Linked DNA regions of Homo sapiens: region 1 is linked to region 2. Evidence: fine-mapped expression QTL. A gene starts in region 2. The other region holds a variant in brackets. All regions are shown on one strand. Distances are from middle to middle. Region 1 holds the start of CHP2 (calcineurin like EF-hand protein 2). Region 2 holds the start of DCTN5 (dynactin subunit 5).

Evidence for each region. PIP is the estimated chance that this variant, and not a neighbour inherited with it, causes the effect. A credible set is the group of variants that fine-mapping cannot tell apart.
Region 1: its variant is the best candidate, but not a certain one, in a credible set for the expression of DCTN5 in whole blood (INTERVAL, PIP 0.84).

The regions. Positions count from the first base shown.
Region 1 is chr16:23,754,331-23,759,703 of GRCh38, forward strand. It overlaps CHP2 (calcineurin like EF-hand protein 2), which reads left to right and starts at 696. Exons shown (of 7, transcript NM_022097.4): 1 at 696-786; 2 at 1,331-1,403; 3 at 1,517-1,597; 4 at 1,733-1,863; 5 at 2,058-2,119; 6 at 2,871-2,993; 7 at 3,200-4,605. The coding sequence starts at 720. The coding sequence ends at 3,253. RefSeq lists an enhancer at 584-1,229. The variant A/T (reference allele first, on the strand shown) is at 3,049.
Region 2 is chr16:23,639,306-23,644,672 of GRCh38, forward strand. DCTN5 (dynactin subunit 5) reads left to right here and starts at 2,161. Exons shown (of 6, transcript NM_032486.4): 1 at 2,161-2,285; 2 at 3,650-3,718. The coding sequence starts at 2,238. It overlaps PALB2 (partner and localizer of BRCA2), which reads right to left and starts at 2,005. Exons shown (of 13, transcript NM_024675.4): 1 at 1,805-2,005. The coding sequence starts at 1,852. RefSeq lists a silencer at 1,072-1,306 and an enhancer at 2,434-3,223.

The DNA of each region.
Region 1 (5,373 bases), 120 kb after region 2:
CTCCTGAATTTTAAGCATTGGCTCAATTAAACAACAATAAGGCAATGTGAACCGAACAAAAGGGATGAAACCAAGATTTACTGACTTTCCCAGAGTCACGGGCACGGCTGGGATTCCAACAAGGACTCCCAAACCAGTGCTCTTTCCACTTAACCTAACGCACACCCTTCATCTCGCCGCCCCTCCCCACTTCCCCGTCTTTGGGAGTTCTTCGATGCCTCTTCCCCCCTCCCCCCAGGATTCCCTCCCCATAGGCCACCCGCCTTCCAGCAGGGCGTGGTCTCTACAGAGGAGGTCAGGTCTCCCAGGCTTCCTCAGCGTCGACGCCGGGGAGCGCCCTGGGGTTGGGAGCGCCCGGGGCCCGCGAAGGAGGAGGTGGCTCAGGTGTCAGGGCGCACCGTGGGAACCGGCCCCGGGGGAGGCGTGGAAACGCGGGGCCTGGGACTCGACCAGCCTCTCCCGTGCGGATCGCAAAATCTCGGAGCTGAAACAGCCCGTTGTTCGCAGCCTCCCTCTGACCCGCCACCCTGCACATTGTTTTCCATTCGCCCGGGTCGCGGGTGGGAGGAGAGGCACGCCGGGGTTCTGGAGCTTGGCCGCGCGCCAGGCTTGTGGCCTTCGTCCCCCTGGGGCCACTGGGGCGGCCACGCCTCTCCGGCGGGAGGAGAGAACGCGTGGGTCCGGGTGGCTGCTCCGGCCCTTCCGCCTCCAGCTCGGCCATGGGGTCGCGCAGCTCCCACGCCGCGGTCATTCCCGACGGGGACAGTATTCGGCGAGAGACCGGCTGTGAGTGCGCCCGCGTCGGCGGCTGCGGAGGGGACGGGGCGAACCCAGGCGTCTGGGGCTAGGGAAGGGGTTGGGTTGAAGGATGGACGAACTTACAAGTCTGGGGTCCGGGGCTCCCCGGAGCTGGAAGACCAAGGCCCCTGTGCCTGGGATCGCTGGGTTAGGGGCGGGTTAACCTAGGGGTCCCAGCCTCCAAGTCTGGGGAGGATCCGGGTTCACGGGGTCGGAGTCCAGAGGAATCCAGGCACCCAGGTGTCCTCCAGCCCGGCTCGAAGCTGAAGGCAGAGCTGACGGCGGTTGGAAGGGATGGCTTTGGTTCTTTGGTTTTCGGGAGGTTGCGAGCCGCCCGGGTCTTGAACCTGGATCTTCGCGGGGTCGTGTCACTCTCCCTCCGCCCCGGCCAGCTCAACCCCTGATTCCCCGGGATGATCGCCCCTTCCAGCCAGCCCCCGCTGTTCTGGCCCATCTTCCTGGCCTGTTGGGGCGGGTTTCTGGAGCTGGCCCTGCAGAGTCACACACCCCCACCCCACTCTCCTTCCCGCAGTCTCCCAAGCCAGCCTGCTCCGCCTGCACCACCGGTTCCGGGCACTGGACAGGAATAAGAAGGGCTACCTGAGGTGAGGGGGAGCCGGCCTCATAACTTCTGGCCTCTGTCTCTCTGACTCCATGTCCCTCTTTGACCCTCCGTCTGGCATCTCTGCCTTACCCTCTTTGAAATTTGGCTTTGCAGCCGCATGGATCTCCAGCAGATAGGGGCGCTCGCCGTGAACCCCCTGGGAGACCGAATTATAGAAAGCTTCTTCCCCGATGGGTGAGGCTTGCTGGGCGTGGGGAGGTGAAGGCGGGAAAACCGGTGTGTGAGTGGGTGGGAGGGGAGGTTAGAGACGGAGGCAAAGTGATGGCCAAGGTGACCACCACCTCTTTCCATTCTGTCCCGTCTCCCCAGGAGCCAGCGAGTGGATTTCCCAGGCTTTGTCAGGGTCTTGGCTCATTTTCGCCCTGTAGAAGATGAGGACACAGAAACCCAAGACCCCAAGAAACCTGAACCTCTCAACAGCAGAAGGAACAAACTTCACTGTGAGTTTGTGAGGACCTGCACAAGTGAGAATGCAGATGTACCCACACCAGGGACAGGCTCCAGGGATCTCCCACTCCCTTCCTGAGGGCATTGACAACCTCCCCCCTCCTCCAAGGTGGGGGGAAGGAAGGTGGCTGCTGGAAGAGAGCCAGGGAAGACCTACCTTCCTTTCCCCCTCCCACCCTCTCCCCAGATGCATTTCAGCTCTATGACCTGGATCGCGATGGGAAGATCTCCAGGCATGAGATGCTGCAGGTTGGCAGAAAGCGAGAGCAAGAGATGTGATGTGTGAAGGATGGGATGGTTAAATGCAATGGTGTGAGAGATGGGGTGGGATGATTGGGGAACTGGGGCGCAGATAATTGGGGTATTGGTTGGGAAATGGGAATGGGTGCAGTTAGAGTGTGGGTTTGTTGGGAGTCGGAGTGGGGAGCAGTTGACTATGAGGTTGGGAATAGATCAGTGATTCTCAACTGGGGGTGATTTTGCTCCCTGAGTGAATATCTGGCAATATCTGGAGATGCTTTTTGTTGTCACAATGGGGGAGAGAGTGTGCTACTGGCATCTAGTGGGTAGAGGTCAGGAATGTGGCTATATATCATGCAATACCCAGGAGAGCCTCTTCCAACAAGGAGTTACCTGGCTCCAAATGTCAACAGTGCCAAGATTGAGAAACTCTGGAACAGATGTGATGGAATGAGGATGGAATTAGAAACCCTTAGTGGCTAAGGTGGAGAATGGTGTGGAGGATGGATGGAGGTTGGGTGATAAAGTTGGGTAATGAGTTTGAGCATATTTTGAGGGTAGTGCAGGATGGTGAGGGAGAGATAGGAGATTGGTTGTTGAAGCAGTAGGGAAAATTATTGGGGGATATGGTGAAAAATGGATGAAGGATGGATTATAAAATTAGCAATAACTTTTGGGATGAGGTGGGCAAGGTTTAGGAGATGGGGAGTTGCAGCCTTCGTGCCCCCTCCTTATGGCTGCCTCTTCACTCATCTCTCAGGTTCTCCGTCTGATGGTTGGGGTACAGGTGACAGAAGAGCAGCTGGAGAACATCGCTGACCGCACGGTGCAGGAGGCTGATGAAGATGGGGATGGGGCTGTGTCCTTCGTGGAGTTCACCAAGGTCAGAGTGCCCTTGGGGATTGGGGAGTTGAGATCAGGAGTTCTGGGGCAGACAG[A/T]CTTGGGAAACGTTCAACGGAGGAGGGCGGAAAGATAGGGGTTGCCTGGGAATGATGGGGTCTCTGGAATGGGTAGAACCCTGGGGGAGGAGGTTGGGAGCATGGAGAGCTGAGAGTCAAGCCTCTTGCCTGCCATTTGTTTTTCCCTCAGTCCTTAGAGAAGATGGACGTTGAGCAAAAAATGAGCATCCGGATCCTGAAGTGACTCCGTTTGTGCCTTGGGCTTGCTCCTGCAACCAGTATCTCCTTGGAATTCATCCAAAGCCCCCATGGACGCATGGACGCAGGGCGACAATAAACTGTATTTTCGTTTCTAACTCTATTTAGGGCCAAGAGAAGAAAGCTGGAAGGATGTGTACTAAAGTCTAGCTCAGCAGTCCCCAACCTTTTTGGCATCAGGGACAGTTTTTCCACGGATGGGTGACAGGGGATGGTTTTGGGATGATTCAAGTGCATTACATTTATTGTGCACTTTATTTCTATTATGATTACATTGTAATATATAATGAAATAATTATACAACTCACCATAATGTAGAATCAGCAGGAGCCCTGAGCTTGTTTTCCTGCAATTAGACGGTCCCATATGGGAGTGATGGGAGACAGTGACAGATCATCAGGCATTAGATTCTCATAAGGAGTGCACAATCTAGATCCTTTGGTGTGCAGTTCACAGTAGGATTTGGGCTCCTATGATAATCTAATGCCACTGCTGATCTGACAGGAGGCAGAGCTCAGGCGGTAATGCAAGCAATGGGGAGTGGCTGTAAATATAGATGAAGCTTCAGCTCGCCTGCCGCTCACCTTGTGCTGTGCAGCCCGGTTCCTAACAGACCACAGACCCCACACCAGGTCTATCTCATTTGGTCTCAGAGCTGTGAATCAGCCAGCAATATTTTAGTTGCAAATCACTGAAAACCCAACTCAAAGTGACTTAAGTCAGAAAGAAATTTTATGAATTCAGGTAATTAAAAAGTCCAGAAGTATCTGCCTTTAGGCACAGCTGGATCCAAGGGCACAAATGATGTCATCAGGCTCCAGTTATTCTCCATCTCCCAGCTCAGCTTTTTCTGTCTGTAAGCCTGATTTTCAGGAAGGCTCTTTCCTAGTGATGGAGATGACCACCATCAGCTCCAGGCTTCTATCCTGCTAACCCAGTAACCCAGTGGGAAGAGATTTACTTATTCCAATAATTCCAAGTGGAGAGTGTCATTGACCCGTTTGGGGTCTCATCTCTACTTCTAGGGGAATGAAACACTCTGAGTGGCCAGGCCTGTGTCATGTGCTAATTCCTAGAGCCAGGGAAATAAGGTCTGAGGATTCAGGATGGGGTGAAAGGTGGTTGCTTAAAGGAAAATGAAATACAATTAGCAGAATAAGGGGAAACGAGTGGTCTGCTCTGCTCGGGCAAAACAAGAGATGCCCATTACTGTGAGGGACCCTTGAAGTCTGGACTCTTAAATGGGTTTTTGCTGATTTCCTGGGTGCATGCTAGGATGATGGGGCTTGATGCAGTAGGGAAGAGACGATGTAAAAATAATAAACAATATATACCTTCCTAGAGTGTGAATGCATTCGAAGATTCTAAGAGTAAGCTTGTTTTCATGGTAAGATGTTCAAACATTGATATAAGATGGAATGGAGCAGGAAGTCCCATAAAACTATGAGACTCTATGTCTGCAGCAGAGCTCTCTGGTTGCACCTGTGGGAGACACTGTAATTGCCCTGCTGTTTTTCTCCCTCCCAGAGCTGGTCTTTGGTTGTCTTGTATCATCAACACATGAGAACCAGTTGTGCTCATAACATCTCAACTCTGCTTTCAATGATATGTTAGCAGCTTGAAACTGGCTATAGCAGGAATATTTACACCACAGACATTGGTAACTGCAACAGGTTAAGGCTTTTTCCTCCTGGAAAGCCAGTTGTTAAACATTTATCTGCACACTACCTGCTAGACATTTCCCATTACTTTGCATGCCAATGGTTTCTTTCCTTTTTTCTCCCTTCTTTCTTTCTTTCTTTCTTTCTTTCTTTCTTTCTTTCTTTTTCTTTCTTTCTTTTCTTATCTTTCTTTCCTTTTTTTTTTTTTTTTTTTTTGAGACAGGGTCTAGCTTTGTCACCCAGGCTGGAGTGCAGTGGCAGTCTTGGCTCACTGCAACCTCTGCCTCTCGGGCTCAAGCAATGCTCCCACCTCAGCCTCTTGAGTAGCTTGGACTACAGGCACATGCCACCATGCCTAGCTAATTTTTTTTTTAAAAAGAGGTGGGGTTTCACCATGTTGCCCAGGCTAGTCTTGAACTCCTAGACTCAAGTGATTCACCCACCT
Region 2 (5,367 bases):
GTGGATCATTTGAGGTCAAGAGTTCGAGACCCGCCTGGCCAACATGGTGAAATCCTGCTTCTACTAAAGATACAAAAATGAGCCGGGTGTGGTGGTGGGTGCCTGTAGGAGGCTGAAGCAGGAGAATTGCTTGAACCCGGAGGCGGAGGTTGCAGTGGGCCTAGATCACGCCACTGCACTCCAGCCTGGGCAACAGAGCGAGACTCTGCTTGAAAAAAAAAAAAAAAAAAAAGGCCGGGTGCAGTGGCTCACACCTGTAATCCCAGCACTTTGGAAGGCCAAGGCGGGCAGATTACCTGAGGTCAGGAGTTCAAAACCAGCCTGGCCAACATGGAGAAACCCTGTCTCTACTAAAAATACAAAAATTAGCCCGGCGTGGTGTTGGGCGTCTGTAATCCCAACTACTCGGGAGGCTGAGGCAGGAGAATCGCTTGAACCTGAGAGGCGGAGGTTGCAGTGAGCCAAGATCGAGCCACTGCACTCCAGCCTGGGAGATAGAGCGGAGAGTCTGTCTCAAAAACAAACAAAACAAAACCTATGTGCAAAACATGCTACTAGACAAGTTGCCAACCGTAAGGAATTTTCTTTTTTTTTGAGAGACAGTCTCACTCTGTCGTCCAGCCTGGCGTGCAGTGGCGCGATCTCGGCAGCTCCCTGCAACCTCAGCGTCCCCTGGTTCAAGCGATTCTCGTGCATCAGCCTCTGAGGCCTGAGCCTCTGGGACTACAGGCTGGCGTCACCACACCCGGCTAATTTTTGTATTTTTAGTAGAGACGGGGTTTCACTACGTTGCCTAGGCTGGTCTCAAACTCTGAGCTCAAGCGATCTGCCCATCTCGGCCTCCCAAAGTGCGGGGATTACAGGCGTGAGCCAGGGAGACTGGCCTCCCACCAATCTTATCAATGTCTGGGGATTATCTTGTTTACTTATAAATGATCTTTCTCACCTCCACCAGAAGGTAAGCCAGGATAAGAATAACATCAGCACAAGCTGGAAACATCCTAAAAGTCTATCAGTAAAGTACAGTCTAAAGAAGCAAGGGCACTTCCAAGGCCAGGTGCAGTGGCGGGTTCGTGTAATCCCAGCTACTCGGGAGGCTGAGGCAGGAGAGTCGCTTGATCCCAGGAAGCGGAGGTTGCAGTGAGCCGAGATCGCGCCACTGCACCCCAGCATGGGTGGCAGAGTGAGACTCTGTCTCAAAAAAGAAGAAAAACAGAAAAGGAAGAAAAAAGAAACAAAACGAGGGCACTTCCAAACTACAACATACTGTCTAGAACTTAAAAAAGAAAGCAAGGTAGATAAACATGTCCTGACAGGAAAGCTAAACGGAACCTGCAGAACCATTCAGATCATACCATTTATGAACATTCCCTTCTCCAAAAAATATACATAGGATTCCTTTTTGGTGGTTAGGGATACGCCCCTCCTCCACCACCCACATTAACACACGAAAGGACCTGGAAGTACCAGACTTAAAAGATTTACTTGAGGCCGTCCGGGGGGAGAAGTAAAGATTGAGGGTGTGGGAGGGGGGAGGAGCAAGGGTGTCGATACAGCTTTATCTACAAACTGTTACACATTGTATTAATGCGCTGCTACTGTAATGAAATTTGTTCTTTAAACGCCACCACGTGAGCACCACGCTATTTCCACATTTTCATTTTCTGTGCCCCCTCAGCCCTAAGAGGAGGGGGTGGTCAGATGATACTGCTGCCCTCGGACTGCCGAGGACACAAAGCCAGGCCTAAAACCCTGGGAAAGCGGGGTCAGAGTCCTGCGTCCGCCCTTCCCGCACCCCCGGCACCTTTTCCTTCTCCTCACAGCTGAGGGGCTTCCCGGGAGGCTCGTCCATCGGGCAGGCGACAGAACGAAAAGAGCAGCCGTCGCCGACCCCAGGCCTGCCGACACCGGGACCCAGTTGGCCCTGGGCCGGGGAGGCGCCCCAGGAAGGAATGGGGAGCCCGGGATCGCACCCTCAGTGCGCGATCAGCTGACCCACGCGGGCCAAGCGCGCCCTAAACTCCGGCCAATTAAATCCACCATTCGGCCTGCGCACGCGCAGCCGTAGACGGCCGAGCAGTGGAGCGAGGCCGCCTAAAGGAGAGCCGCGCTGTCGATGAGTCCCAGTGGGCCACCTGGAGCGGAAGTGGAGGAGCGGCCGGAAGTAGCCGGAATCTCTGAAAGACTGACCGACTGACTCTGACAGGATCCGGGGCTGAGGGAAGGAGGCGGCGGCCATGGAGTTGGGCGAGCTGCTCTACAACAAGTCTGAGTACATCGAGACGGTGCGCGGGTCCAGATATGTATCCTCCTCTTTCCAACCCTGCGTCCCTTTGAGGCCTGGTCGGCGTTCCCAACCTGCCCCTACCCCACCAACCCCTGTCCCTTTGGCCATTAGTCCCGGATTATCTAGCGATGCCCCGTGTACCGTCTGGCTTTGCTGTTTACTCCGCGCTTGGCCAGTTGAGGCCTTTTGTATTTATTCCTGATTTTCTCATAGGGGTAAAGTGCCTTCGGGAGGATAGGACAAGTCCCATCCTGTTCATACGAATTACAGCTCGGACTTCGGGCCCTTTTACACTGCCTTTTGTATCTGTTAACTTGCGCTAAAAACGATTCGGTTCTTTTTTTTTGAGGAAGGGGGTTGGGGGGCGGAGACTCTGTCGCCCAGTCCTGAGGGCCGCGGCGCGATCTCTGCTCACTGCAACCTCCGCCTCCCGGGTTCAAGCGATTCTCCTGCCTCAGCGTCTCGAGTAGCTGGGATTACAGGCGCCCGCCACCACGCCCGGCTAATTTTTGTATTTTTTGGTAGAGACGGGGTTTCACCGTGTTGGCCAGGCAGGTCCCTAACTCTTGACCTCAGGTGATCGACCCGCCTCGGCCTCCCAAAGTGCTGGCATTACAGGCGTGAGCCACCGCACCCTGCCGATTTGGTTCTTTATGATCAGTACATGATATGTTTGTAAAATCTTGGAAACAGGGCAAGTGGTCAATTAACGTTACTATCGTTATTTTGGTTTTCTTTGCTTTCTCACAACTCTGATACTCATAGTCATTATCCTCGTTTTAAGGCCGTAAAGCCCACGCGTGGAAGTGGGATTTGAATCCGCGTCTGTCTGATGCCACCAAGCTATAGACATTCAAATTATGAGTTTATTCCTTGAGTCCCTAGTTTCCTTTGTGTTTTTATTTTTTGAGACAGGTTCTCACTCTGTTGCCCAGGCTGGAGTGCAGTGGCACAATCACAGCTCATTGCAGCCTCGGCCTTCCAGGCTCAAGCGATCCTCTAGCCTCAGCCTTCTGAGGAGCTGGGACTACAGACACGCGCCACCATGCCCGGCTAATTAAAAAATTTTTTTTTTGTTGAGAAGGGGTCTCACTATGTTGCCTAGGCTGGTCTTGAGCTCCTGTCCTCAAGGGATCCGTCTGCCTCAGCCTCTCAAAGTGCTGAGATTACAGGCATGAGCCACCATACTCAGCCATAGTTTCCTAATCCATCATTGCTTTTTTGATATCCTGGACTCACTCCATTGTGGACAGCACCCCACTTTATGTTTTTTTCTCTCAAATGGGAGCTTTCTTGATGGAAACCTGTAGTCCAGAAACCTATTAAGTTTGCTTTCCCCGGTTTTCCGTTGTTTTCTTTTAGGCATCTGGGAACAAAGTCAGTCGCCAGTCAGTGTTGTGTGGAAGCCAGAACATCGTTCTCAATGGCAAGGTAAGGGACAAAGCCAGCTCCAGGCTGCAAACCTTAGCTTGCGTTCTGCTAATTGTCACCACAGCAGGGCAGATAAAATGTTGCCATATCTCCTATTTATTGTTTACATTTTTAATTCTCTTGTTTTTAAATTTTTTATTTTGTAAATTGGATCTCCTTTTTGTTTTTTTTTTGTTTCGGTTTTTTTTGAGACAGTCTCACTCTGTCGCCCAGGCTGGAGTGCAGTGGCCCCATCTCAGGTCGCTGCAACCTCCGTCTCCCAGGTTCAACCAGTTCTCCTGCCTCAGCCTCCCGAGTAGCTGGGATTACAGGCAGCTGCCACCAAGCCCGGCTAATATTTTGTATTTTTAGTAGAGACAGGGTTTCATCATGTTGGCCAGGCTGGTCTTGAACTCCTGCCCTCAAGTGATCCACCCACCTCGGCCTCCCAAAGTGCTGGGATTATAGGTGTGAGCCACTGCACCCAGCCTAAGTTGGATCTCTTGAATGCAAAAAGGTTCAATAAGAGGCAACAGAAAACCTTTTTTCTTTTATGCCAGGAACAAAATACAGTGGTACCTAGAACCAACATTATTTTATGATATAGTGTGCATTAAACTACTGGGCACAAAGTGTAACAGGTAATGAAATATTTGAAGGTAGAAACTAAAGTAATACTTATAAAATTATCTCTTTAGTAAAAATTAATAATTCACTATTAACTGAAACTCTTAAAACGAATGTGACAATTGGAAAAGATATTAAAGTATGAGACAAATATGCAAAGTGGAATCTGAAAGCCTGAGAATCTTGTAATCCAAATAAATTACAATAGCAAAGAGACGAGTATAAACTTGGAAGAGAAAATATCACAGGGTATATTTGAGCTTGACAAACAGTGAAGTTCACAGTTGTTTTCCTGCCATCTGGAACACTCAATTTTGAAATTAATTTTTCTTTAAATATTACATCTCTAACTTCCAGAAGGAAAATAGTCTCCTTATAACCAAGAGATCACAAATATTTTCAGTAGAAGATAATTAGTCTCCATTAAGCCTGTCATACCAAGGAATTAAGTGGAAAAGAAATATAATTCAGTAATTGCTGCTCAGACATACTGTTTCTTTTTTTTCCTTTTTTGTTGAGACAGAGTATTGCTCTGTCACCCAGGTCGGAGTACAGTGGCGCGATCTTGGCTCACTGCAACTTCCACCTCCTGGCATCAGGTGATTCTCCTGCCTCAGCCTCCAGAGTAGCTGGGATTACAGGCTCCCGCCATCATGCCCACCTAATTTTTTTTTTTTTTTTTTTTTTTTGAGATGGAGTCTCGCCCTGTTGCCCAGGTTGGAGTGCAGTGGTGCGATTTTGGCTCACTGTAAGCTCCGCCTCCCAGGCTCACGCCATTCTCCTGCCTCAGCCTCCTGAGTAGCTAGGACTACAGGCACCCACCACCATGCCCAGCTAATTTTTTGTATTTTTATCAGAGATGGGGTTTCACCGTGTTAGCCAGGATGGTCTCAATCTCCTGACCTCGTGATCCACCTGCCTTGTCCTCCGAAAGTGCTGGGATTACAGGCGTGAGCCACCGCGCCTGGCCTAATTTTTGTATTTTTAGTAGAGACAGGGTTTCACCATATTGGCCAGGCTGGTCTTGAACTCCTCACCTCAGA